Homo sapiens: one gene and its partners. The protein of the gene in region 2 purifies or fractionates together with the protein of the main gene of each other region. This does not show direct contact. Each region holds a gene or a part of one and is shown on either strand. Other genes may lie near its edges. The genes, in order: UPF1, NSUN2, THG1L, ERCC3, DDX49, TIFAB and METTL3.

Region 1 (3,500 bases), on a different chromosome or scaffold from region 2:
TGGCCACTGTCCAGGGGTGCGCATCCACAGCAGCCCCTGGGCTGAGGGACTTCTGAGCTCATCCGGCGGCCCCTGTGCTCGCTGTAACAGCAGTGATCCACTTGGCCTCATTTTCAGCTCGACGTGGGATCATATGATGTGTCCTGGCGTGTCTGGCTTCCTCTGTCCATGTCAGGCTGGTGCTGTGCAAAAACACCGGTTTTCTCCACTGATGGAAGCTCCCAGTAGAGTGAGGAGGGCACCTGTGAATTGAGAAACTGGTTTTACAGTTTTAAGGAAACGCAACAGGGCCCAGAAAAGCCAAGATGAGCATGAAGAGCCCGAAGAAAGTGGCTGCTCACATGGCAGGACGCCCCGGCCCCCAAGCTGCAGTGTTGGGCCCCGGCCCAGGAGGGAGCCCAGAGGCAGAGCCACCGGTCAACAGGCCCTCAGCAGGAATGGACAAGGCTGCAGGGCAGGGGGACACTGTTGGCTCAACAGTGTCACACACAAGTCAGTTGTAGGGGCTGTGGCGCCTTTAAGGCAAGCTTCTGGAAGGAAGCAGGAGAATATCCTGTATCCTGGGGTTGGCAGAGATCCAGGCTGCAAGAAAGCCCTGGCTGAGACCCTGTTCCCTGTTCAGGGGCTGAGCCAGCTCTGTGCTGGCCATGGTGCTCTCGGTGGCCTCTCCTCAGCCTTGCCCAATCCTGGGCATCTCTGGCCAGGGGACCGGCTCAGGTGACCTCACCAGGGCCTCACAGATCGAAGTCTCCTGCCCCAGGACCTGCAGCACTGTAGCGTAGCAACTACATTGCCCTGTGTCTGAACTCATTTGAGGCGGGCTAGGGCTTTTGAAGTGTTACTTCTTTCCCTCCCCTCACAGCGGATCGTGTGAAGAAGGGATTTGACTTCCAGTGGCCCCAACCCGATAAACCGATGTTCTTCTACGTGACCCAGGGCCAAGAGGAGATTGCCAGCTCGGGCACCTCCTACCTGAACAGGTGAGCAGGGACAGGCCCACCGGCGTCTGCAGGTCTTGGGGACAGCTTGAGAGGTTGTTGACCCATTCTACTTATTTTTAACATGGGACTGAAACTTTTTTTGCCTTCATTTCCTGTTTAGCCTGTTTAGACTCTAAACCGTGTTGTTTCTGCCTCCTTTTCCATTGTACTTGTTTTTTATTGGGCAGATACTTGCTAATCCCACATGGCAGCCGTTTCTGCCCCTCGAGACTCCCCTGGTGAAGGCTGGGGAAGCTCAGCTGTGCAAACGCCAGTGATGGCAGCTGCCTTCCCGCAGGGTGTTGTGTCTGCACCCCTCACGGCCTCCAGCCTCAGGGCTCGGGATCCCACAGGTGGAGCCCAGCACTGACAGCCTGGGTTTCTTAGGACCGAGGCTGCGAACGTGGAGAAGATCACCACGAAGTTGCTGAAGGCAGGCGCCAAGCCGGACCAGATTGGCATCATCACGCCCTACGAGGGCCAGCGCTCCTACCTGGTGCAGTACATGCAGTTCAGCGGCTCCCTGCACACCAAGCTCTACCAGGTGCGCTGCGCCCTCGGGCACACTTGGTCTCCTGGGCCATGCAAGGGTATTGACCCTTGACCTTTAAGTTACCCCCCAAGAGGGGCCCGTCCTGGCTGGAGCTCAGAATGGCCCAGGAAGCACCAGCTGGCCCACCCTCTGGGGAGGGCACAGACAGCACATCCCCACAGACCCTGCGAAATTCCACATGATCAGGACAGAGACTTTGAGAAATACATCACAGGGATCAGAAACATGGGCTGAGATTGGCACATCAAGGTGTTTTCTCGGGATGGTTGAAACAAGTCCAAGGTGGAACGGCAGTGGTCTGTGCCTGCCACACACTGGATGTTGTGCTGTGGAGACCGTGGTGTTCACACCTTTATTGACACCCGGATGAAACACCCACTGCGGGTGTGTGGGGAGGAGGCACAGCTCTGCCTCCATGAGGAAATGAGCCCAAGTGCTGAGTCTGAGTGGCCACATGGCAGTGGTTTCTGTTCTGTTTTTGAGCACGGCTCAGGTTCTCTGGGATGAGCACGTGTGCTCTTAGTGCTGAGAAACAAATCTCCGTGGCTAAAAGAGAACAGGCTAGGTGTCATGGCCCACACCTGGAGTCCCAGCACTTTGGGAGGCTGAGGCAGGGAAGTCGCTTGAGGCTAGGAGTTCCAGACCAACCTGGGCAACGTAGGGAGACCCTGCCTCCACCAAAAAAAAATAATAACTGGGTATGGTGGCATGTGTCTATGGTCCCAGCTACTCAGGAGACTGAGGTGGGATCAGCTGAGCCTGGGAGGTCAAGGCTGCAGCGAGCTGAGATTGTACCACTGTACTCTAGCCTGGGTGACAGAGCAAGATCCTGTCTCTAAAAAAAGAAAACAAAACGAAATGGCAGCAGAGCCAGGACAGCCCCTAGGTGCGGTGAGCAGGCGCCAGGCCCCAAGCTCCCGGGTGGGATTTGAGGGTGGGTCTTGGTGTGTTTCCTGCATTTTGGGGGGACTGGGAAGGCAGCCTGCTGGCTGATAGTGACCACAAAGCTCCCTTCCAGGAGGTGGAGATCGCCAGTGTGGACGCCTTTCAGGGACGCGAGAAGGACTTCATCATCCTGTCCTGTGTGCGGGCCAACGAGCACCAAGGCATTGGCTTTTTAAATGACCCCAGGCGTCTGAACGTGGCCCTGACCAGAGCAAGGTAGGGAGGCTGCCTGCTGCATGCTGCCCAGCCGCTCATCGGTCCTCACTTCCCAGGGAATTTGGGGCTAGGGTTGGGGGTTGCCAGGGCCAGAGGTCAGAGGACTCTGAGCAGCAGTTGAGAAACGATGTCTCACTGGAGAGATCTTTGTTTCCGTGTCCTGGGGGTTTGCTGTGGCCCCTGTGCCTCAGCCCAGCAGGACGTATTTTTCCAGGCCCTTCTGGTCTGATTCAAAATAAATCTTGTGTGTGTCTGTCAAGTTGTTTAATCTGAGAGGCTGTAAGTTTTGGTCCTGTCCACTATTTTTGGTTCTAAAATACAACTTTTGTGAACTGATGATAGCAGAAGGGACCCCGAGAACAAGGTGTCCATTCTGTCATCCCACATAAAACTAGACATCAGGCCAGGCATGGTGTCTCACACATGTAATCCCAGCACTTTGGGAGGCCGAGGCAGGTGGATCACCTGAGGTCAGGTGTTCTCGACCAGCCTAACATGGTGAAACCTCCTCTCTACTAAATACAAAAAAATGAGCCGGGCGTGGTGGCACATGCCTGTAATCTGAGCTACTTGGGAGGCTGAAACAGGAGAATCGCTTGTACCTGGGAGGAGGAGGTTGTGGTGAGCCGAGATTGCGCCATTACACTCCAGCCACTGGGCAACAAGAGCAAAACTCTGTCTCCAAAGGAAAAAAAAAAACACTAGACAGCAAGGACCCATTCACCAGCTGGAAGTTGGGGGGACCTGGCCTGTGGCTCCACCCAGCACAGGGAGAGAGCCTGGTGCTCCTTCCGGCTCATATGCGC
Region 2 (3,500 bases):
CATGGTATAACTGAGTAACAAGTTTTTTTAAAAGGAAAGAAACAAAACTAAAGACATCATCTGTTCCGTTCCCATAGGAGGTGCACGGATGATGATCCCAGGTGATAATGACTTCTGAATGACATAAGTTTGTCAAGACCAGAATTCAAAAGCTGCCACAAAACTTGTTAGCACAGAATGCAAGCTTTAGATACGATACCACATTATGGAAGAATGCCATTTTGTTTCAGTAAGTGGCAGAGTTACTGCTCATGGCAAAACTCAGTATGAAACTTGCAGCTGGTGGCTCTGAATATAGCTGAGTGTTAAAATAATCTGGAAAAAGCCCTCTTTAAAGTAAAATTTAAAATACATCATGAACTAAAGTTTTTTTTTCCTCTAGGTTGCAATTTTTCAGTATTCCTTGGGGTCTCATGTTTTCCTACCCCTGTTTTTTGATCAGAAAGATAACTCGTTCCTTGTATCATATTCTGAGATCTGAGAACGCAGTGACCTTATGAGCAAGAGGTTGCAAGCTGGGGAAATTTCTGAAATTGTGGTGGGATTTCTACCATGCAAACAACTAGTGTACAGCCAGGAATGCCATTGCAAAGTGGGGATTACATCTCATGGGATAATTCCATCCTGCAGACCTAGTCCCTCGTGTACACGCGGCTAGACCATCAAGGAAAATCAGCATTTACAGAGAAAGCCAACAAAAACAGGCGTTACCTTCTGGGAAAACAGGGCAGATAAAATTAGACACAGAAAGTAACAAATCCAGTCTTTACTATAAAATATACATGGAAAGAGCTTCCATTAACAAAAACATGAAAATAACTTCCATTAAATAAAAGTAGAAAGTCAGAAATTTAACGGTGATTGTAAGAAAAATTTAGCTATTAGTAAGAAAAATTTAGCTATTATATTAGCTTAATTGAAATTACTATGGAAAATTTATTAGTCATTATTCATATAATTCTGATTAAAATGCCATTGTTGATTAACTGAGTTTTTCAATAGTATTTTAGGTTCTGAAAAACATGAAAATAACTTCCATTAAATAAAAGTAGAAAGTCAGAAATGTTTACCTGTGATTGTAGGAAAAATTTAGCTAATATATTAGCTTAACTGTGGAAAATTTCTTATTAGTCATTATTCATGTAATTCTGATTAAAGTGTCATTGTTGATTAACTGAGATTTTCAATAGTATTTTAGGTTCTGTGTCCTAGGTCTGCAAATTAGTCTTGCTAGTGTTTTTTCCAAATGGAAGCACATTAATATCTCCTTAGTGAATGGAGTTTACTGTTCAAATCCATTATTTTCTGCTTGAAAATTGAAGTATAATTTAAAACTATAATACATTAGAAAATCCCTAAAACAAAAGCTGAAAGCAGATTGCAGTTGGTGAAAATGGAGATTGTTTCCTAACTGATATTTGTAACACTTGTTTTGTAACTTAGCTTGTATGTGACATATCTGTTAAAGTGCAGTCATCCACCTGTAGGGAGCTTTGCACTCATAAATATCTTTTTTCCAGTGGAGACGGCACTATGAGAAAAAACATTGATGTTTGGAAAAAGTGGACCACCTTAAATAGCTTGCAGCTACATGGGTAAGTAAAACTTCATCACTGCTAACACTGTGTGACAAGTAGATCAGCAGAGATTTATTGTTATGCAAGTGAGCATCCGATCTTTAATTAGAGAGCTGTAAGCATCAGAGGATGGTCAATGGCCACCTTCAACTGTTTTATCAGAAGTTATTTGAAAACCTTTCAAGAGCAATAACTGCAAATTGTATACATTTCAGATAACACGTTTATTAAAAATGCCTTCTATAAAAATTTCTTGCAACACTTCAGATATGTATTTTTCCATGAAATGACCGTTTACCTCTTGATGTATGCATTACTAATCTTTTCTCTCTGTTTTTGTTCTTTTGTATCATCGTTTTGCTAAGAGACATTTTGATCTCTTAGAAATATTTTTCGGTTGGCTTTTTATGATGGGGAACTATTCATTAAAGAACAATTGGAAAATTCTTAAAGAGAAATCTCATAACACGATGATCACGTCTGTTAATGTTTGGTGTGTTGTATTGTTTTTCTGTTTACAGGGATTTTTTAAGTACTTTTTCCAAATACTTTTGATCATGCTGTCTGTAGAGCAGTGTATTCTTTTTTTCATTTGACATGACAAATGCCATGGTCTTGCATGCAGGACTGTACTGTGCCTGAGCCACAGAATACTAATTAGCATCCACCACAACCAACTATAGCAGGAGGCCTCGTCTCCATAAAATACTGTCTACTGTTTTGTGACACAGAGACAAGAGTTAGGACTGGAATGTATGATACCAATTTTTCATAGAAAAACCACATATTTAGGAAGTATGGAGGTTTTTTAAATAGTGAAATTTCATCTAATACATTGAATTCTGTTGTTACTGAACTTTATACTCTGCTGGTTGACATATTGGGAAAGGTTAACAGAGCAGTAAGAATATTTATATAATACATTTTTTTTATTAACATGAAACACTTTATATAAGTTTACTCTAACTTCATTTAGATCCCTGGAAGGTTTTTTTTAAGTATAATTGTGTTATAAAAGCTTGTAATGAATATGTGACATAAGGAGGTGCTTCTAATATGTGCACTTCATGGATACATTTGGCCTTGCAGTCATCTGATATCTCCCCTTAGCTTACAGCTGCGGATTGCAACACGCGGGGCTGAACAGCTGGCTGAAGGTGGAAGGATGGTGTATTCCACGTGTTCACTAAACCCTATTGAGGATGAAGCAGTCATAGCATCTTTACTGGAAAAAAGTGAAGGTAAGCACGCTTGATGGATCTTTTATTAACAGCATAGGGGGCTTTTCATATGTGTATGGTACAATACACATAACGTGAGGTTTACCATCTTAATCATTTTTGAGCCTGCAGTTCAGTCCCGTTAGGTATATTCCCATTGTTAATCACCACCACCATCCATCTCCAGAAATCTTCACCTTGCAAAACTGAAACTCTGAACTCCTTTAAACAGTAGCTCCCATCTCTCTCTTCCCTGCCCCTCACACCACCGTTCTATTTTTTGTCTGTATGACTTTGACTACTCTAGACCTCACAGAAGCGGAATCATACTGTATTTGTCTTTTCGTGACTGGCTTATTTAACTTACTGCAGCGTCCTTGAGGCTCACTTGTGTTGTTGTCTGTGTCAAAATTGCATTGCTTATTAAGGCTGAACACTATTCTGTTGTTTATATAAACCGCATTTTGTTTACCCATCCATCTGTTGATGGACATCTGGGTTTCTTCCACTTTTTGGCTGTTGTGAGCCATGCTGCTGTGAGCATGGTATACAAATACCTCTCCAAGATCCTGGTTACGATTCTTTGGATATACACTCAGAAGTTGAATGGCTGGATCATATGATCATATAGTAATTCTGTGTTTAATTTTGGGGGGACCCCACCATGCTTTTTTTCACAGTGGCTGCGTCATTTTGTATTTCT
Region 3 (3,500 bases), about 150 Mb from region 2:
TTAAAATAGTGTTTCTTAGCCAAATGCATTTTATCTCCTGGCTTTCTGGGCAGTTTGTGTACTCTCTGTGGTACCCACAGGTCTTATCATGGTGTTGAACTAATTCCGTGTATTTTTCTTTTTCTTACTCCACCCAATGTGCGTTACATTTTCAAGTAAGTTCATGACTCACGTGGCCTCCCAGTTTGCCTCCAGCTATGTGTTTTATTGGCGGGATTACTTTGAGGACCAGCCCCTTCTGTATCCCCCAGGCTTTGACGGAAGAGTCGTGGTGTATCCCAGCAACCAGACTTTAAAGGACTACCTCAGCTGGCGACAAGCAGATTGTGAGTGGCACCAAATAAACACATGTAGTTAAACCACCAATTCCATGTCTTACAGGTGTTGATCTGATACAGGATTGGCTCACATATACTTTGTTTCAACATATACGTTGTACAGAATGCAGTATTTAAATATTTTTTCAATTAGTTAAAAGTATTTGAAAAATTAAATTTTACGTAAAAACTCCTTATCTCTATTTTTTTTTTTTTTTAAGACAGAGTTTCGCTCTTGTTGCCCAGGCTGGAATGCAGTGGTGTCATCTTGGCTCACTGCAACCTCCACCTCCTGGGTTCATGGGATTCTTCTGCCTCAGCCTCCCGAGTAGCTGGGATTACAGGCATGTGCCACCACGCCCGGCTGATTCTGTATTTTTTAGTAGAAATGGGGTTTCTCCATGTTGGTCAGGCTGGTCTTGAACTCCTGACCTCAGGTGATCCACCCGCCTTGGCCTCCCAAAGTGCTGGGATTATAGGCGTGAGCCACCACGCCCAGCCGCCTTATCTCTATTTTTTAAAAAAATCAGATGTGGCAATACTGGATCTGCATTCTTACTTAGTACTAGACAAAGCCTGTTCAGTGGCAGCTACCTTTACACACACACACACACACAAATGCCAGTGTGCCATAGTCTCTGCCATTCCCTGTTGTTCCTCTGGGGTCACCCACTGCTTTACACATTTATGTTCATGCTGGCCTCAGTGGGTATTTGAATTGTGACCCTTGCCTTATGTGACTGTGATGATGTTTGTGAGGCTTTTACTTGCTTGTTCTAGTTTGAATTTTCCAGAAGAACTGGAAAAGAGATTGAAATAATATAAATCAAATAACTTCTAAAGTATTCCTAGGATTAACACACAAGTTAACAGATTTGTATAATGTGTAACTGAAATGACCAAATAAAACTGTTGTTAGGGATGAAGTTTTTTCCCTACTGCTCCTTCCCTCCATGTTCCGTGTGTAGGACTTCGGTCAAGTCACTGAATGTCTCTGAGATCTCTTTACTATGAAAGAGGAGAGGGTCAGGGCTCTAGTATTCCTTGAAGAATGAATATTCAATAAAGATTTTATGTATATAAACATTACTATTTTGTTCTCCTCACAGGTCACATCAATAATCTTTATAATACAGTTTTCTGGGCACTTATACAACAATCTGGACTAACACCAGTACAAGCCCAAGGGAGATTACAGGTATAAAGATCTTACTACATTAATACTTAACTGGGGACAGTTCGCTGTAGGCTCTCCCATAACTTTTTTTTTGTTAAATTTACATTTCTTTCTTTTAAGATCCCTGTACAGCTTTGTTTTGAAAGGATATAAAAATCATAATAGGAGCAGCTCTGCTGCCTGCTTGGTCTGTAATCCTGGATGAATTACTGCTTCTCCCTGAGCCTTTGTGTTCTTAGTGGAAAATGGAATTGACGGCACTGGCTCTGCATTCCCACGTGCTAACACTTGCCTGAAGCCGTGTATGACTGTGTATGACTGCCGTCTTCAGCACTGACTTTTTTTTTTTTTTTTGAGACACAGTTTCACTCTGTTGCCCAGGCTGCAGTACAGTGGTGTGATCTCAGCTGATTGCAACCTCCACCTCCTGTGCTCAAGCGATTCTCGTGCCTCAGCCTCCCAAGTAGCTGGGATTACAGGTGCATGCCACCACACCCAGCTAATTTTTGTATTTTTAGTAGAGACAGGGTTTCACCCCGTTGGCCAGGCTGGTCTTGAACTCCTGACCTGAAGTGATCTGCCTGCCTGGGCCTCCCAGAGTGCTGGGATTACAGGCGTGAGCCAGTGAGCCACCACACCTGGCCAGCACTGAATTTTTGTCAGTCCCACCACGCCTCTTCCCTCATTGCCATTTTCCCTGCTGGGCACCTGTAGTTTCTTGGGTTTATGACCTCTGTGTATAGGAAGAGTTCGTGCTGAGTTTGTTACTTTCATAAATGTCATAATAACTACTCACATCATGCTTCTGTGTAATTTTATCCTTTCTGCCTCAGTTCTTTATAGGTAAAATGTAGAAAATAGTAGTTTCTACCTCATAGGTTTATGGTGAGAATTAAATGGCATGATGCACGTAAAACACAGAATCGTATGAAGCACATTGTAAGTGCTTAATAAATACTGGTTTTTGTTATAACAGTGCTACTTGTAGGATGACTAACTGTGAAGTGAGGTAATGTGTTGTAACAGATCTTTTATTTGTATTTTATTTTATCTATTTATTTATTTTTTGAGATGGGTTCTTGCTATTTTCCCCAGGCTGGTCTTGAACTCCTGGGCTCCAGCAGTCCGCCCACCTCAGCCTCCCAAGTAGCTGGGATTACAGGTGCATGCCACTGTGCCCAGCTGTAACAGTTACTAATACAATGCCTGGTACATTATGTTTGCTCAATAAATGGTTGTCATTTTTAATAATAGTAATGATAGAGATTTTTATATAGCAATAATAGGAAAACTGGGGCCTGGTGTGGTGGTTCACGCATGTAATCCCAGCACTCTGAGGAGGCCAAGGTAGGTGGATCACCTGACGTCAGGAGTTCAAGACCAGCCTGGCCAACATGGTGAGACCGCTTCTCTACAAAAATTAGCTGGGTGTGCTGGCACACACCTGTAATCCCAGCGACTCAGGAGGCTGAGGCATGAGAATCGCTTGAACCTGGGAGGTGGCAGTTGCAGTGAGCTGAGATTGCACCACTGCACTCCAACCTGGGCAACAGAGTGAGACTTTGTCTAAAAAAAAAAAAGGCATACTGGTAGGTATATCCAGGTTTGGAAGAGTCAAGTTCAGATTTCAATTCTTCGTAGAAGAATAAGGACAACCTTTTAACCTTGGGGAATTTATATAACCTTTCTAAGTTTTACTGGACCAAATACATAATATGTATTCAGTTAGTATTAATTCTCCCCACTCCCTTTCAGTCTTGACTTGTGAAGCCAGTGTTTGGTATAGGAGAGAATTTTATCTAAGTAAGATCATAATTGCCCTTAAGATGAAAATTTACTAATAACTATAAGATGTTTGATAAAATCCTTCCACTTCTTGATTGTGGAAATTTAGGTTGTGGGTCGAATGGATAGTAGCACTAGGGGAGAAAGAAGACATGCAGAGCTTTTAATATCTATTTTTATTTTCTCAGGGAACTCTTGCAGCAGACAAGAATGAGATTTTG
Region 4 (3,500 bases), on a different chromosome or scaffold from region 2:
AGCCTCCCAAGTAGCTGGAACCACAGGTACACACCACCACGCCCAGCTAGTTTTATTTTTTGTAGAGATGGGGTCTCACTACATTGCCCAAGATGGTCTCAAACTCCTGGGCTCAAGCTATCCTCCTGCCTTGGCCTCCCAAAGTGCTGGGATTATAGGTGTAAGCCACTGTGCCCAGCCAGCCGACTACATTTTATGACTTATAAGCTGAATCCTCACAGCAGTCTTGGCAAGACAGGATTGTCACCCCCACTTTGGATGGGAAAACCAAGTCTCAGAGGAGAAAATAATTTGCCAAAGGTGACACAGCTGGCTTGGTGCCTGAGTCCATGCTATTTCTAGTCCATGCTATCTGCCTCATCTCCATTTTAAATACAAGCTACTAGACGCTTCTTAAACACATCTGAACGCAGTACAGTTCCAACAGATGCCCACTAATCTTGTCATTTTCAAACATTCTAGCAGTCCAGATGCCTCCTTGAATAAGCAGACTCCTTGAGGATAGGGCTTGTGTCCTTGTCTCAGGATGTGCCCTGGTCCCAGTAAGACAGACACGGCCATCTCTTAGCAAGAGTGTCAGTCCCTGCCATGTCCACAATGGCAGTCTGGGCCCTTTTACCGCAGTAAGCAAGCACAGGGGTGCCACGCCTCCTCAGAAAAAGCCTTTGCAATGAGGATTCTCACCTCCTCACTCACTGAGCTTGCCCTGCCCCTGCTGCAAGCTGCCACCAGGGCGGCACTCTGCACAGGTTATGAATGACGTGCCCATTGTGTGTCTGCCCAAGCTGCTCCTACCAAACCTTTCCCTGCCTCCTGATCAAGTTCCAGAAGCAGCTTCCAGCTCCTCCACTTACACTGGTGGCCCAGCTCTGTTTTCTCCCTTCCATGTCTACCCCATAAGCACTGCCTTGCCCTGGCTCCCTCTCACCATCTACCAACACAGCTGCACAGTGTACAGAGCACATCTGTGTGGATTCCGTGACACTGTCATGGAAAACACCTGCATATTCACCCCCAAGGTATGAGAAATAATGATGGGCCATAAGGATCTAGGTCTTTGCTTTGGGATTCTCTCCCTCCAGAGTCTATTTAGCCCCAGGGCACATGGCAGCTCTCACCCCTATCGTCTTCCTAACTAAAGTGGTTTAAGAGGAGTGACCTCCTGCAACAGAAGATGAAAGGCCACTTTACCTTTTTTAGCTCGAAGCACCCGCCCTAGCCTTTGGGCTTCCTGACGCCTGGAGCCACCATGGGATGAGATCTGAATGAGGACATTTGCTTCCGGCAGATCAAACGAAGTGTCACCTACCTACAGAAACAAGTTGGAAGGTTTTTATATATGAGGAAAAAAAAAAAGTCAACTGATCCAGAATTTAAATAAGTTCTGTAGATAATTTTGAAACATAATCACTCTTTTCTCCTCTTTATACCAGGGTCTATCTGATGCAGGCAGAGAGAGGTGAAGCAATAAACCTCAGAAAGGCATCTCTGGGTCTCCAGGACCTTGTGTGAGTTCTGCTAAGAGTCATCCTGAAGAATTAATACCAGGCATCAGTGACATTCAGTGCTGGGTGCCAGGAGCCCAGAGATGAGAGGGCCCTTGAACAGAGACTGACTTTGAGTCATTCATTTTTTTGGCTACAGAAATATGTCTCCACAAAACCATCCATACTCTTACCTGTTGGCCACTGACACCAGCAGCACACGTGGGATGTGACCTGGGAGGAACAACTGCCCCATATGGAATTCTGACTGTAGGTGGATTCCTCAGCTCTGGGGCTCCAAACATCGAGGTTCCCAGCCACAGACATGAAGGTTTGGTGCTTATAAGCGCCCAGCCACAATCACATAAAATCTCATTTCTTTTTTTTTTTTTTTTTTTTTTTTTTTTGAGACGGAGTCTCGCTCTTGTTGCCTAGGCTGGAGTGCAACGGCACAATCTCAGCTCCACTGCAACCTCCACCTCCCGGGTTCAAGTGACTGAACCCTGCTGCCTCAGCCTCCTGAGTAGTTGGGATTACAGGCGTCTGCCACCACACCCAGCTAATTTTTGTATTTTTAGTAGAGACAGGGTTTCTCCATGTTGGCCAGGCTGGTCTCGAACTCCTGACCTCCGGTGATCCACCCGCCTCAGCCTCCCAAAGTGCTGGGATTACAGATGTGAGCCACCGCGCCCGGTTGTAAAATCTCATTTCTTTTGGGCTTTGGGTCTGTCTTAATCTGAATGACTATTCTAAACTGTGGGGCTACAGCTTCTGATTGCAGAGTAAACCATCCCTGAGCTGGGCCTGCGGAAGTCTGTGCTGACATCCACCACCCATCATCAAGGGACACCAGGAACCAGGACAAAGGCTGCCGCGACACACAGGATCTCCAACTTGTAAAGAGAACTTCATCTAAATGCCTACTTTTGCCAGAGTAGGAAATGAACTTTTTTTCCTTTTATAAATAAGGAAATACAACTTAAAACTTCTACATCCCCAAAAGAACTGGAAAAACCTCAAATAGCCTTTATAGATTATCCATGATGCATGCAAATCCTCAGTCTGCTCCTTCCACTAACCCCAGGCAGTGCCCCCTATCCCTGGACATGTCGGAAATGAAAACATGCAGGAGAAGTTCCTTCAGCAGACATGAATTCACTGTCCAGGAATCATAGTGTACCCCCCAGGTCCCCAGAGTGCTAGGGGCCTCACCTCCACCCCATATGCCACACAAACCTTGGATATGAAGATGGTGTTAATTTTGGGGTTGTGCTTGAAATTCTGGAGAATTTGCATCCTTTCCCCCTGAGACGTAGGTCCGTAGATATAGGGTCTAGAGAAGAATGAAGCTGTGTTAGACCACAGAATAATGCCTCAGTTATCTTGAAAACACATCAGAGGGAAAAAGGAGCTCAGGCTAGCTCTTCTCAAGTAGAAAGCCCTCGTCATGTAGGAATATCGTTACACCCAAAAAAATGACTGGCTACAGATGCACCTCCCAGCCTTCCCCACTGATTCTAGGTTTAGGCCCACCATTCTCTTCGGGATTCCCTCCTTTCCATTTTTCGTTTTCTTTTTGGACTATGCTTTTTCCTGCTTCAACATCTCTTACTCTCAGCACAGAGTCTATACAAGGAGCATCTCCACATTTCATGAAGCCCAAAGAGAGGTGCAAAGAAACCACTGCTATTTCCAAAAAAAGGCTGGAAGCAACTGTTTGCCAAGACACAGGCATGCTCCAAGAGATGAGCAGAAAGGAGAAAAGTGCCCTTCAGCCATTATTGTGCTGATTTCCCATAACACTAAGTTTTAAAAACTTCTCTTTAATTTCTAGCTCCCTGCCAGGCGCGGTGGTTCACGCCTGTAATCCCAGCACTTTGGGATGCCGAGGCGGGTGGATCACCTGAGGTTGGGAATTCACGACCAGCCTGACCAACATGAAGAAACCCCGTCTCTACCAAAAATACAAAATTAGCCGAGTGTGGTGGCGCATGTGTGTAATCCCAGCTACTCGGG
Region 5 (3,208 bases), on a different chromosome or scaffold from region 2:
GTCCACCATCAGTGCAGTTTCGGCCCTAGTCAACGTCACAGAAAACAGCAAGCAGAGATCTTGGGCTGAGGCCCGTCAGGGCTAATGGCTGGCATTACTTAGACTGGGTTCCCTGGCAGCCAAGCCAAAAAGGGAAATCGGGCAGTAACTAACTGCTGTGTAAGGCCAGACTGGCAGACCTGCCTCTCCCCAGCGACCCGTCCTCCACACAGTGGTCCTGCTTGGGGTCAAGCCCAGACACTCTGGGCTGATCCCTCCCAAGCCCAAGCCCTTGTTCAGCATCTCCAGGACCCCTGAGCTGTGTAGCTGTCAGGATCTACCTTTATTCGCCCCATGTCCTGACGCCCAGCACATAGCAGATAACCGGCACATCCCCACAGGGCGGCAGGGTCAGGCCATCACGCTGGTGACACAGTACGACATCCACCTGGTGCACGCCATCGAGGAGCAGATCAGTGAGTGGGGTTGGGGTGGGTGGTAGAGAAGGAGGGGTGGGGTGGGCAGAGGTGGGCACCTCGGGGTGAGACCCATTTTCCCGTCAGACACCAGCCGGCCTGCTCCCGTGAGCAGATTTAGGCTGGGGCTTCCTTCCCTAGGCACCCCCAAAAGAAGTTCTTTTGCCCATTTATTGAAACAAACTCCCCATAGTTGTCGCCAGCAGCTGAAAGCCACATCAGTCAGGAGGGGACTTGGGTTTCTTAGACTGAGATGTATGGAAGGTCCCTGAGATGTCAGAGGCCCCATTGACAGGGCCTGGCCTGCTAAAAACCCCTGGGAATGGTTTCATATGCAGCCAAGACAGAGACACTTCCTAAGGTATCTCTGATCACTGCATAGACTGTCCTGAAATTTAGAAACATCTGGACTTGGCCAGGCACAGTGGCTCACACTTGTAATCCTAGCACTTTGAGAGGCCGAGGTGGGCGGATCACTTGAGCCCAGGAGTTCAAGACCAACCTGGGCAACATGGTGAAACCCCGTCTCTACTAAAAATACAAAAATTAGCCAGGTGTGGTGGCGCACGCCTGTAATTGCAGCTACTTGGGAGGGTGAGGCATGAGAATTACTTGAACCCGGGAGGCAAAGGTTGCAGTGAGCCAAGGTCGCGCCATTACGCTCCAGCCTGGGTGACAGTGAGACTCTGTCTCAAAAAAAAAAAAAAAAAAAAAAAGAGAAACATCTGGACTTTAAGGCCGGGCACGGTGGCTCACACCTGTAATCCCAGCACTTTGGGAGGCCAAGGTGGGTGGATCACTTGAGCCCAGGAGTTTGAGATCAGCCTGGGCAATGTGGAGAAACCCTGCCTCTCCAAAAAATATAGAAACTAGCAGCACACGCCCGTAGTTCCAACTACTCAAGAGGCTGAGGTTGGAAGATTGCTTGAGCGGAGGCTACAGTGACCTGATTGAGCCACCACGCTCCAGCATGGGCGACAGAGTAAGACCCTGTCTTCAAAAAAAAAGAAAGAAATATCTGGACTTTAAAGGACACTGTTTGCAAGAAATTAATATTCATGGTTAAACTCATAATGCTGCTAACACCGAAAAAAAATGGCGGGGGGAGGCTGAGGCATGAGAATTACTTGAACCCGGGAGGCGGATGTTGCAGTGAGCCGAGATAGTGCCACTGCACTCCAGCTTGGGTGACCGTGAGACTCTGAAAGACAGCGGTCCATACCTTCCTTACCTCAGAAATCCCTGATCTTGCTCAGCTGACCCTTACCTGATATGGCCCCAGATGGCCTTGCATACCCCACAGCATGGGGAACTCACTACTTGGCTGAACTCCCTCTCCATGTCACGTCTCCTCCCCACCCCCACCCCCGGCTTTGCTGTCCCCACAGAGAAGAAGCTGGAGGAGTTCTCCGTGGAAGAGGCCGAGGTGCTACAGATCCTCACACAGGTCAACGTGGTGCGAAGAGAGTGTGAGATCGTGAGTGTCAGAGGCGGGCAGGAACTAAAGTGCTCTCCAGGGCCGGGGGTGCTCCCTTCCAGGTGGGGCCCCCGTGACCAGCATCTCCTTACCCCACTTCCCTCCACCAGAAACTGGAGGCGGCCCACTTTGACGAAAAGAAGGAGATCAACAAACGGAAGCAGCTGATCCTGGAGGGGAAGGTGAGGGCCGAGCCCGCAGGTAGGGGGTGGGTGGCCAGGTTCCCTGGCGGGGGCCGCCAGCTCAGCCATCCCCTGGTCCTCCCTGTGCCAGGACCCTGACCTGGAGGCCAAGCGCAAGGCTGAGCTGGCCAAGATCAAGCAGAAGAACCGGCGCTTCAAGGAGAAGGTGGAGGAGACGCTGAAGCGACAGAAGGCTGGCAGGGCTGGCCACAAGGGGCGTCCACCCAGGACACCGTCTGGGTCCCACTCAGGCCCAGTCCCCTCCCAGGGCCTGGTCTGAGCCCCACACGGCCATCTGCCCAGTCCTTGACTCGTCCATGGAGCTGAGGGTCGGAGGAACCTTCCTTGGGGGCAGCAGCCCTTCCCGGGGGCCTACCCAGTGCCCCACAGCAGAACCCGTGGGCGCTCGTGTTGTGCGGGCCCTGCTCCTCTGCCCCGAAACCACTGGCTGGTCCCTTCCCTGAGCCCTGGCCAAGATTCAGGCTGCAGGGGAAGAAAGAACATGACCGGGAGGTTGTGACCCCAACCCAAGGTCACCCCCCAGGGGTGCCGCATACAGGAGGTGCTTAATAAACGGGTCTTTTGACTTCCTCAGTCTGACTTTCGAAGAGCAGGGGGACAGGAGAGGTGGGGTGCAGCCGCTGTTGTTTCTCAGGTGTCTGCCCAGAACACCATGTCCATTTCCACCAGGCAGGCCCAAAGTTTTGCAGACACCAGCTGCTCGAATGGCCATGGGATTTTGGGCCCTGAAGCCCCTTCTCTGGGCTTCCAGTTTCCTCATCTGGAGAATGGGCATAGCAACTGCCCTGCTCTCCAGAGGCAGCTGTGAGGCTTTGGTGAGGTCAGTCCTGTGCCGAATGGGTGCAGCTATAAGCTTCCCTGGCCACCCACCTGGCCACATCTGGGGTTTGTGGCCAGAGTGAAGGGGCCATGAAAGTCCAAATTTGGCCAGACAATGTGGGCTAAGCCCAAGGGGACAGGCAGAGAGACACCAGAGCCAGCTTCCTGGCTGTGTGGCCTGGACCCCCCTCGGACTCCAAGCCTCACCCCTCATCTGCAAGCGGCTTATAACTGCTACATGGATTCAGGGGCAC
Region 6 (3,986 bases), about 130 Mb from region 2:
GGAAATAGCAGACAAAAGCCTCCAGGGATGTGCCTTCTTCTACGCGAACCAGCATCTGGATGCCTGAGAAGGAGACCCTGTTGACGGTGCTCAGGGGGACCTGCTCCAGGTACCTCAGCGTCAGCCCATTGACCCACACACAGCCCTTGCGGCTCAGGGCCTTGAGGCAGAAGGCCAGCAGGGCACTGCCTTTCTCCAGGTAGGGCTCCAGGGACAGGTGACGGCGGGAGAGGCGAGGGAGCTGCAGCTGGAGGTGGGCGTCCTGCCCCCGTCCGAGAAGCAGAGGGCTGGTATCATGCTGCAGCCGTGGTGGGACATTGGCAAAGGCAGATGGGCCCAGCGTGGGATGGTACAGGCTCACTCGCAGGACGGTGAGGGGCTTCTCCATGGAAGAAGTCCTGGGAAGTTGGAACATGGACACACAGGCTCAGCTTCAGTCAGAGACCTCTGTGGCTCCCTGAGCCCAGACACACTTGCCCACCTCAGGGGCCCTGTGCCTGTTCATACAATCACTCTGCCCAAGCCAGGATGGAGCCAAGGCTGGAATTGGTGTGGAAGGTCATGAGCTTAGTCTCTCTCATACTCTGAATAGAACATGCCACCCACTCTGTCTGACTTTTGGATTTCTGTAGTATAGATATATCTGTCCTTGTCTATGCAAGGGATAAGGCATGCTGGCTTGCAGGGTGGGGATTTGGTAATCTTTTGGTTATTTGGAGACAACTTGGCCCTGCTTCTTGGAAAGGAAAGGGTAGACAGACTGGCTACATTTTCCTTGTATCTGACAGTCACACAACAAACCCTTGCTGAATCCTCCTTTGAGCCAAGCAGGGAACCAGCTGCTGGGGAGAAGCAGATTCAACAACGAACCGAGCCCTGACTCTTGGGAGCACCCACTGGTGGAGGAGAGAGGTGTTTCTAGCATCAGGATGTGTGGAAGGACACAGAAGGAGGATGCTTAGCCTAGTCCTGGCCACCAGAAAGGCTGCCTAGAAACCCTGGTGAAGAGTAAACAGCTAGCACATTCCGAGTGGTTACTATGGGCACTTGCTGGAAGGCCACTCACAATGGCCAGCTTTGTTCCTGCATGGGTTTGAGGAACACAAACTCTGCTATGTCCACCAGCACCCTGTGGCCCAGGACCTGCCATCATCTTCAACAGGAACCAAGGGTTGAGTGGATTTGAATAACTAATTATACATTCTCTGGGTACCAGGCTTTTGCTCACATTATTTCTCTCCTAAGAATGCATCTTCCATCCCAAACTCTGTGTCCAAATACTGCCCACGGTTCAAGGCCCTGTTCAAGTGTTACCTCTCCTGTGAAGCTCCCTTCCCTGGGGAAGGTGACCTTTCGCTGCCTTCTGACTCCCACAACAGGGGGAATCCCCCAGGACACCTGGCCAACCTTACTCTCCATTCATTCCATCTTTGCATTTCATGCCCAAGTTCTGTGGGCCCTTGTCCTGTCTTCCCTGAGTTCCTCTCTTCCTGCCCCTGAGGCCTCCCAAGGGCTGGGTATGGTCTGGGCTGTGGTTCTTGCTGCCCCATGTTCCACTGCCCCATACAAATAGGGCCTGGCCACCATAAATGTCCAGGGGCACATTTGCCGAGTGGCTAAATGAGAAGCCCACACACACACATGGTGAAATCACCCAGAGAGACCACAAATGGGATCATGTCTCAAAGGCTGTGGGACAGCGAGCCTGTTGCAGGTGGCTTGAACTCAATGTCCCTCCAGGTCTTGAACCTGCTGCCCCTCCTGCCTTTTAGATGCAGTAGGTTAATGGCTGAGACCTTTTAGTCTGATAGTGAGGGCACCCTTTCACTATCAGAGGCCTGAGGGCACCCCCTTTCCCCTAAGGCACAGACACACATATGCCTCTACCCACACCCCATCTGGCCATAGTCTGCCGAAAGCCTTTCTTTTTTTTCTTTTTTTTTTTTTTCTGAGATGGAGTCTCACACTGTCACCCAGGCTGGAGTATAGCGGCATGATCTTGGCTCATGGTAGCCTCCGTCTTCCAGGTTCAAGGGATTCTCCTGCCTCAGCCTCCCCAGTAGCTGGGATTACAGGTGCCCGCCACCATGCCCAGCTAATTTTTGTATTTTCAGTAGAGACGGGGTTTCGCCATGTTGGCCAGGCTGGTCTCGAACTCCTGACTTTAGGTGATCCGCCCGCCCCGACCTTCCAAAGTGCTGGGATTACAGGCGTAAGCCACCACGCCCAGCCAGAAAGCCTTTTCTCGAGGTATGCGTTACAGGCTGAGCCCAGGACAGGTGGGCTGGGCAACCCATGCTGTCAGGCCTGGCTGGAAACTCAAGAGTTCACTCCCAGAAACTAATATCACGGCACAGAGACCCTGAAAGAATCCCTCAGGAAGAAAGATTCACAGTTGCTGTGTGGCCTTACTCTCTGCTCCAACCAGAGCTAACAGAAATCTCCCACTAAAGAGGAGCCCATCCACGACAGGCTGTCCCGTGTCTTTTGGATCCCAGGTGTTCTGGGGAAACAGAAACCCAGCCCTACAAATCCAGCCTTTGGGACGGGGCAGGAGGAAGACACTCCAGAATGTGTGTCTCAGGGGAGCCCTCCTCCCAGCCCCACCAGGCCCTCCCTTCTCCCCATGGGTTCAAGCCCCTCTGGCTTCAACTTACCTTATTGCCGGGGCACATCTGGCTCTAGTCCTGCAGCTGTGAGCTCTTGAGAGGGAGTAGGCTGGTTTGGGTAGGGCTGGGAGGGCTCCTATGGCTGCAGTTCAGGAACGTGGCAGAACATACTTCAGTTTTGTTGCATTCTTCCTTTTTCCCTTTAGGAAAGAAAATAGAAGTGTAATTTTTCATTGCAGAAGTGCAATTCCACTGCTGAGAGTTTGAGAAACCCCAGCGTGGGGCCCCTTCTGAGACAGATGGCCTGCCTTCCTGGGTTTCAGTTCTGCCAGCCTCTCCTACCCCACCCCCAGGGACCTTAGGACCTGCACCCAGGGTATCTGCAAAGTTCCTCTCCACCTGCCAGTAGGATGGGGTCAAAGCAGCCCAGGCATGTTAGAAAAGAAGAGCTTTTTGGGACAGATGGCTACGGGACAGGAGAGTCCCCTGAGTGTGGGAGAATGAGGAGAGCGTTCTGGCTGGATAGAGGTTGGCCAAGGAAACTGTAGGCAACATGGCACTTCCCTGAGGGTCTCAGGAGAGGGCAGGGCCTGGGGACGGGGAGGATGGAGAGGGCAGTAAATGGCCACTCATAGAACATGATCTCTCCTGCAGAACAGTGAGAAGGTGGTCTCTCATGCCCACTCCCCATCGCCCGAGCTCTGCCTATTTGCATGCAGTTTGGAAGGGGTGAAGATGGTCGCTTGTCCAGCACTGCGGGCTCTGGCTGCCCTGGAATGTGAAGGTGCTAACCCTTCACGTAGCCCAGCATTTCATAGTCCACCAGTGTGTTCAAGTCACCTGCGTTATCTCCTAGGAGTTTTATAGTTCTATACGTACATTTTAATTTTTCTGACATGTGTAAGGTTTGTGTCTAGATTTTTTTTTTTTTTGGCTTATAGGTGTTCAGTTGTCTCAGCACCATTTTCCGAAATGACCATGTTTTTTTTCCTTCAGTGTTTTCTCTTTACTCCTTTGTCAAAGATTGGTTGACTGTATTCATGTGGGTTTATTTCTGGGCTCTCTACTTTGTATCATTGATCTATTTGTCTATTTTTTCACCAATACCTTACTGTCTTGATTGCTGCAGCTCTGTAGTAAGTCTTGAAGTTGGGTACTGCCAGTCCTTCAATTCTGTTCTTCTCTTTCAATTTTGTCTTGGCTCTTTTGAGTTGTCTGTCTATATAAATGTTAGAATCAGTTTGTTAATAGCCACAAAATAACTCGCTGGGATTTTGACGAGACTTCATCAAATCTATCAATAAAGGAGGGAAGAACTGACATCCTGACAGTATTGAATCTTCCTATTCATGGACATGGGATATCTCTCTATTTGTT
Region 7 (3,500 bases), on a different chromosome or scaffold from region 2:
AGCCTCCCCAGTAGCTGGGATTATAACCTTGCATCACCACCCCCAGCTAAATTTTTTTTTTTTTTGTATTTTAGTAGAGATGGGGTTTCACCATGTTGGCCAGGCTGGTCTCGAACTCCTCACCTCAAGTGATCCACCCACCTTGGCCTCCCAGAGTGCTGGGATTACAGGCGTGAGCCCCAGTGCCTTACCAGAATGGAAATATTTAAGTAAACAAAATATTTCTAAATGTAAACTAATGGCCTACTTATTTAGCAATTTCAGTTCAGTTCTTAGGAGTTTAATATTTCATCTATATTTTAATTAACCACAGATATTAGGCTTTCTCAAAGATAACATTTTGTCCTAATTTTAGTTTCTCAAATCGTTATTAAGGTTATGATGGCAACCCAGCTTGTGAAGTAATAGATGATAATAATATAGTCAGGAAATATCATTTGGTAACCAAGGCTTCAGCAAAGTATTAAGATTTTTGTGTTTGTGAGTGTTATAGGTAACACTGTTGGCCCCCAACATTGTCATTTTGTACACTTTGTTGATCAGTGGCCTGAATTCATTAAAATTCACACTACATGCCTCAAAAAGAATATTGGATCCCAGCCTAGGTTGTTGAGTATATTCCTGTCCTTTATTAAAATGTAGGTTGATAGAAAGGTGGTAGGGATATTTAAATCTATCATGCTAATTTACTTTCTTTGTATCACAGCAAGGATAGGGAATTAGGAAAAGATTACTCACTCAATAGAGAAAAGGTAGATAGAAAATCCAGTATTATCTTGACAAAGCAGTGAATGTTTTAGTATGATTGAGGATAGGTAATCTAGTGCTAAAGTTGGTCACAGAATTTCCTGCACAAAATGAAAGATCTGTGTATGGGAATGCTAGAGAATTTGACTTCTCAGAAATATATAGACCAACAGTGGTTGCCTTTTTTCATTTTCACTTCTCTTCATTCTTAGATCTACGGAATCCAGAGGCAGCATTGTCTCCAACCTTCCGTAGTGACAGCCCAGTGCCTACTGCACCCACCTCTGGTGGCCCTAAGCCCAGCACAGCTTCAGCAGTTCCTGAATTAGCTACAGATCCTGAGTTAGAGAAGAAGTTGCTACACCACCTCTCTGATCTGGCCTTAACATTGCCCACTGATGCTGTGTCCATCTGTCTTGCCATCTCCACGGTAATGACCTGACAGAGTTAGGATTTACCACTTATTTTCAGTTCACGGTCAGTGTCTTATTGCCCATACCTCCCCTCGTTCTCTAGCCAGATGCTCCTGCCACTCAAGATGGGGTAGAAAGCCTCCTGCAGAAGTTTGCAGCTCAGGAGTTGATTGAGGTAAAGCGAGGTCTCCTACAAGATGATGCACATCCTACTCTTGTAACCTATGCTGACCATTCCAAGCTCTCTGCCATGATGGGTGCTGTGGCAGAAAAGAAGGGCCCTGGGGAGGTAGCAGGGACTGTCACAGGGCAGAAGCGGCGTGCAGAACAGGACTCGACTACAGTAGCTGCCTTTGCCAGTTCGTTAGTCTCTGGTCTGAACTCTTCAGCATCGGAACCAGCAAAGGAGCCAGCCAAGAAATCAAGGAAACATGCTGCCTCAGATGTTGATCTGGAGATAGAGAGCCTTCTGAACCAACAGTCCACTAAGGAACAACAGAGCAAGAAGGTAGGGGTCATGTGAAAATACTCTCACAATATGCTCTTAATTATAGCTTTGTTTGACAGGGATTTACCCCTAGGGCAAGGAACTGTTTACAGCAGTGGTTCTCAACTGGGGATGATTCCCTACTGCCCAACTCCCAGGGGATCTGGTAATGTCCGGAGACATTTTTATTGTCACACATGGGGGAGTGCTATTGGCATCTAGTGGGGGTAGAGGCCAGGGATGTTGTCAAACATCCTACAGTGCATAGTGGGACAAACCCCCACAACAAACAGTTGTCTGTCCCAAAGTGTCAACAATGCCAATGTCGACAAATTCTTATTTAGATAATCTGTCACTGAATCTGAAAGAATTGGATCAAGAGAAGAGGAATCCAAATATATAGAAATATAGGGAGATGAATGGAGAGGAATACTAGACCAATTATGGAAATTGACTAAATAATGTGAATTGGTTCTGAGTATAAGCATTGGCCTGACATGAGTTCTTATCTGTTTGGTACTTCTAGTGCGTGAGTTTGAACAAGTTAATTAACTTCTCTTGAGCCTTAGTCTTCTCATCTGTAACATGAAGATAATACCAGCGTATCCTGCCTTATAGAATTGAATAGACTCTGAGCTAAAAAGTAAAGTGTTTAGCACTATACTTTTTAGTTCAGCACCCAGTAAATATGTTTTTTGTAGAAGGAATGCCTTCCTGGGGAGGGGATGTTAACATAATGCTTAGCGGTAGGAACCAGGCCTCTTCCATTTTAATTTCATCCCAAATGCATATTTGTGAGGAAGGACTGAACCCCTAACAAATCTCTTATCTGAAGGCTCCAATTTTCCAATATTAAGTTAGCTAATTTAGGTCTAGGCACAATGGCTCATTCCTGTAATCTCAACACTTTGGGAGGCCAAGGCGCGAGGATCACCTGAGGCGAGGAGTTCAAGACCGGCCTGGGCAACATAGACCCTATCCCTATAGAAAGTAAAGTAATTAAAACATTAGCTGGCATGGTGTCACGCACCTATATTCCCAGCTACAATTGAAGGCTGAGCTGGGAGGATCACTTGAGCCTGGGAGTTCAGTGGGAGAAACAGTGAGTTATGATTACACAACTACACTCTGGCCTGGGTGACAGCAAGATCCCATCTCTTAAAAAAAAAAAAAAAAAAAAAGTTGATTTATCTCTTAGAAGACATTAATGTCAAAAAGAATTTGCGGAGTTGGTCTAAGAGCCAATTTGATCTATAAGACATTTTAAGTCCAAGGCTACTTCTGTCACAGGTCAGTCAGGAGATCCTAGAGCTATTAAATACTACAACAGCCAAGGAACAATCCATTGTTGAAAAATTTCGCTCTCGAGGTCGGGCCCAAGTGCAAGAATTCTGTGACTATGGAACCAAGGAGGAGTGCATGAAAGCCAGTGATGCTGATCGACCCTGTCGCAAGCTGCACTTCAGGTCTCTTGGAAGGGAATGAGGTGGGATGGGTTTGTCAGAAGCAGCCATTCCTTTTCAGCATATTCCTTCCAGTCATTGGGGTTCTGTCTGTAATCTTATTTAGTTTATGGTTTGTGTAAGTCCTCCAGACCCTGAAGGTGTACTTTCAGAAGTGCATTGTGTGGGAAGAATACAGGCTGTACTCCCAAATAACTGAGATTTTTTTTTTAAAAGCTCCCTCCCTCTTAGAATAGCAAAGTATGTCTGTCTCTGAGCCACAGTGAAAGTTAAAGTACTCTGAAAGGAGGATAATCTTAGGAGAAAAGGAACCTAAACTCTTAGGTCAGTGTTTTATTCTGTTCTACCCAAGTCTCCTGCACTGCTTGCCTTCCAGTGGTAAAACAGGAA

The links.
Region 1: the proteins of NSUN2 (region 2) and UPF1 fractionate together in Homo sapiens (co-fractionation; one large-scale study listed by BioGRID). This does not show direct contact.
Region 3: the proteins of NSUN2 (region 2) and THG1L fractionate together in Homo sapiens (co-fractionation; one large-scale study listed by BioGRID). This does not show direct contact.
Region 4: the proteins of NSUN2 (region 2) and ERCC3 purify together in Homo sapiens (affinity purification with mass spectrometry; 2 studies listed by BioGRID and IntAct, with this or other methods). This does not show direct contact.
Region 5: the proteins of NSUN2 (region 2) and DDX49 fractionate together in Homo sapiens (co-fractionation; one large-scale study listed by BioGRID). This does not show direct contact.
Region 6: the proteins of NSUN2 (region 2) and TIFAB purify together in Homo sapiens (tandem affinity purification; one large-scale study listed by IntAct). This does not show direct contact.
Region 7: the proteins of NSUN2 (region 2) and METTL3 purify together in Homo sapiens (affinity purification with mass spectrometry; 2 studies listed by BioGRID and IntAct, with this or other methods). This does not show direct contact.

The regions. Positions count from the first base shown.
Region 1 is NC_000019.10:18,859,459-18,862,958, forward strand, and holds part of UPF1 (regulator of nonsense transcripts 1), read left to right. Parts: intron 1-862; coding exon 863-980; intron 981-1,367; coding exon 1,368-1,524; intron 1,525-2,551; coding exon 2,552-2,694; intron 2,695-3,500. UniProt on the Homo sapiens protein: RNA-dependent helicase required for nonsense-mediated decay (NMD) of aberrant mRNAs containing premature stop codons and modulates the expression level of normal mRNAs.
Region 2 is NC_000005.10:6,616,045-6,619,544, reverse strand, and holds part of NSUN2 (RNA cytosine C(5)-methyltransferase NSUN2), read left to right. Parts: intron 1-1,520; coding exon 1,521-1,595; intron 1,596-2,687; coding exon 2,688-2,818; intron 2,819-3,500. UniProt on the Homo sapiens protein: RNA cytosine C(5)-methyltransferase that methylates cytosine to 5-methylcytosine (m5C) in various RNAs, such as tRNAs, mRNAs and some long non-coding RNAs (lncRNAs).
Region 3 is NC_000005.10:157,734,420-157,737,919, forward strand, and holds part of THG1L (probable tRNA(His) guanylyltransferase), read left to right. Parts: intron 1-156; coding exon 157-326; intron 327-1,426; coding exon 1,427-1,515; intron 1,516-3,467; coding exon 3,468-3,500. UniProt on the Homo sapiens protein: Adds a GMP to the 5'-end of tRNA(His) after transcription and RNase P cleavage. This step is essential for proper recognition of the tRNA and for the fidelity of protein synthesis.
Region 4 is NC_000002.12:127,270,145-127,273,644, forward strand, and holds part of ERCC3 (general transcription and DNA repair factor IIH helicase/translocase subunit XPB), read right to left. Parts: intron 2,818-3,500; coding exon 2,721-2,817; intron 1,310-2,720; coding exon 1,192-1,309; intron 1-1,191. UniProt on the Homo sapiens protein: ATP-dependent 3'-5' DNA helicase/translocase. Binds dsDNA rather than ssDNA, unzipping it in a translocase rather than classical helicase activity. Component of the general transcription and DNA repair factor IIH (TFIIH) core complex.
Region 5 is NC_000019.10:18,925,923-18,929,130, forward strand, and holds the end of DDX49 (probable ATP-dependent RNA helicase DDX49), read left to right. Parts: intron 1-380; coding exon 381-455; intron 456-1,843; coding exon 1,844-1,932; intron 1,933-2,042; coding exon 2,043-2,114; intron 2,115-2,205; coding exon 2,206-2,394; 3' UTR 2,395-2,708; downstream 2,709-3,208. UniProt on the Homo sapiens protein: ATP-dependent RNA helicase that plays a role in various aspects of RNA metabolism including the regulation of mRNA export and the levels of pre-ribosomal RNA. Regulates the stability and synthesis of pre-ribosomal RNA and thereby regulates cell proliferation.
Region 6 is NC_000005.10:135,449,552-135,453,537, forward strand, and holds the start of TIFAB (TRAF-interacting protein with FHA domain-containing protein B), read right to left. Parts: upstream 2,801-3,986; 5' UTR 2,658-2,800; intron 1,172-2,657; exon of another isoform or gene 949-1,171; intron 399-948; 5' UTR 389-398; coding exon 1-388. UniProt on the Homo sapiens protein: Inhibits TIFA-mediated TRAF6 activation possibly by inducing a conformational change in TIFA.
Region 7 is NC_000014.9:21,501,341-21,504,840, reverse strand, and holds part of METTL3 (N(6)-adenosine-methyltransferase catalytic subunit METTL3), read left to right. Parts: intron 1-959; coding exon 960-1,177; intron 1,178-1,263; coding exon 1,264-1,668; intron 1,669-2,937; coding exon 2,938-3,113; coding exon of another isoform or gene 3,114-3,132; exon of another isoform or gene 3,133-3,133; intron 3,134-3,500. UniProt on the Homo sapiens protein: The METTL3-METTL14 heterodimer forms a N6-methyltransferase complex that methylates adenosine residues at the N(6) position of some RNAs and regulates various processes such as the circadian clock, differentiation of embryonic and hematopoietic stem cells, cortical neurogenesis, response to DNA damage, differentiation of T-cells and primary miRNA processing.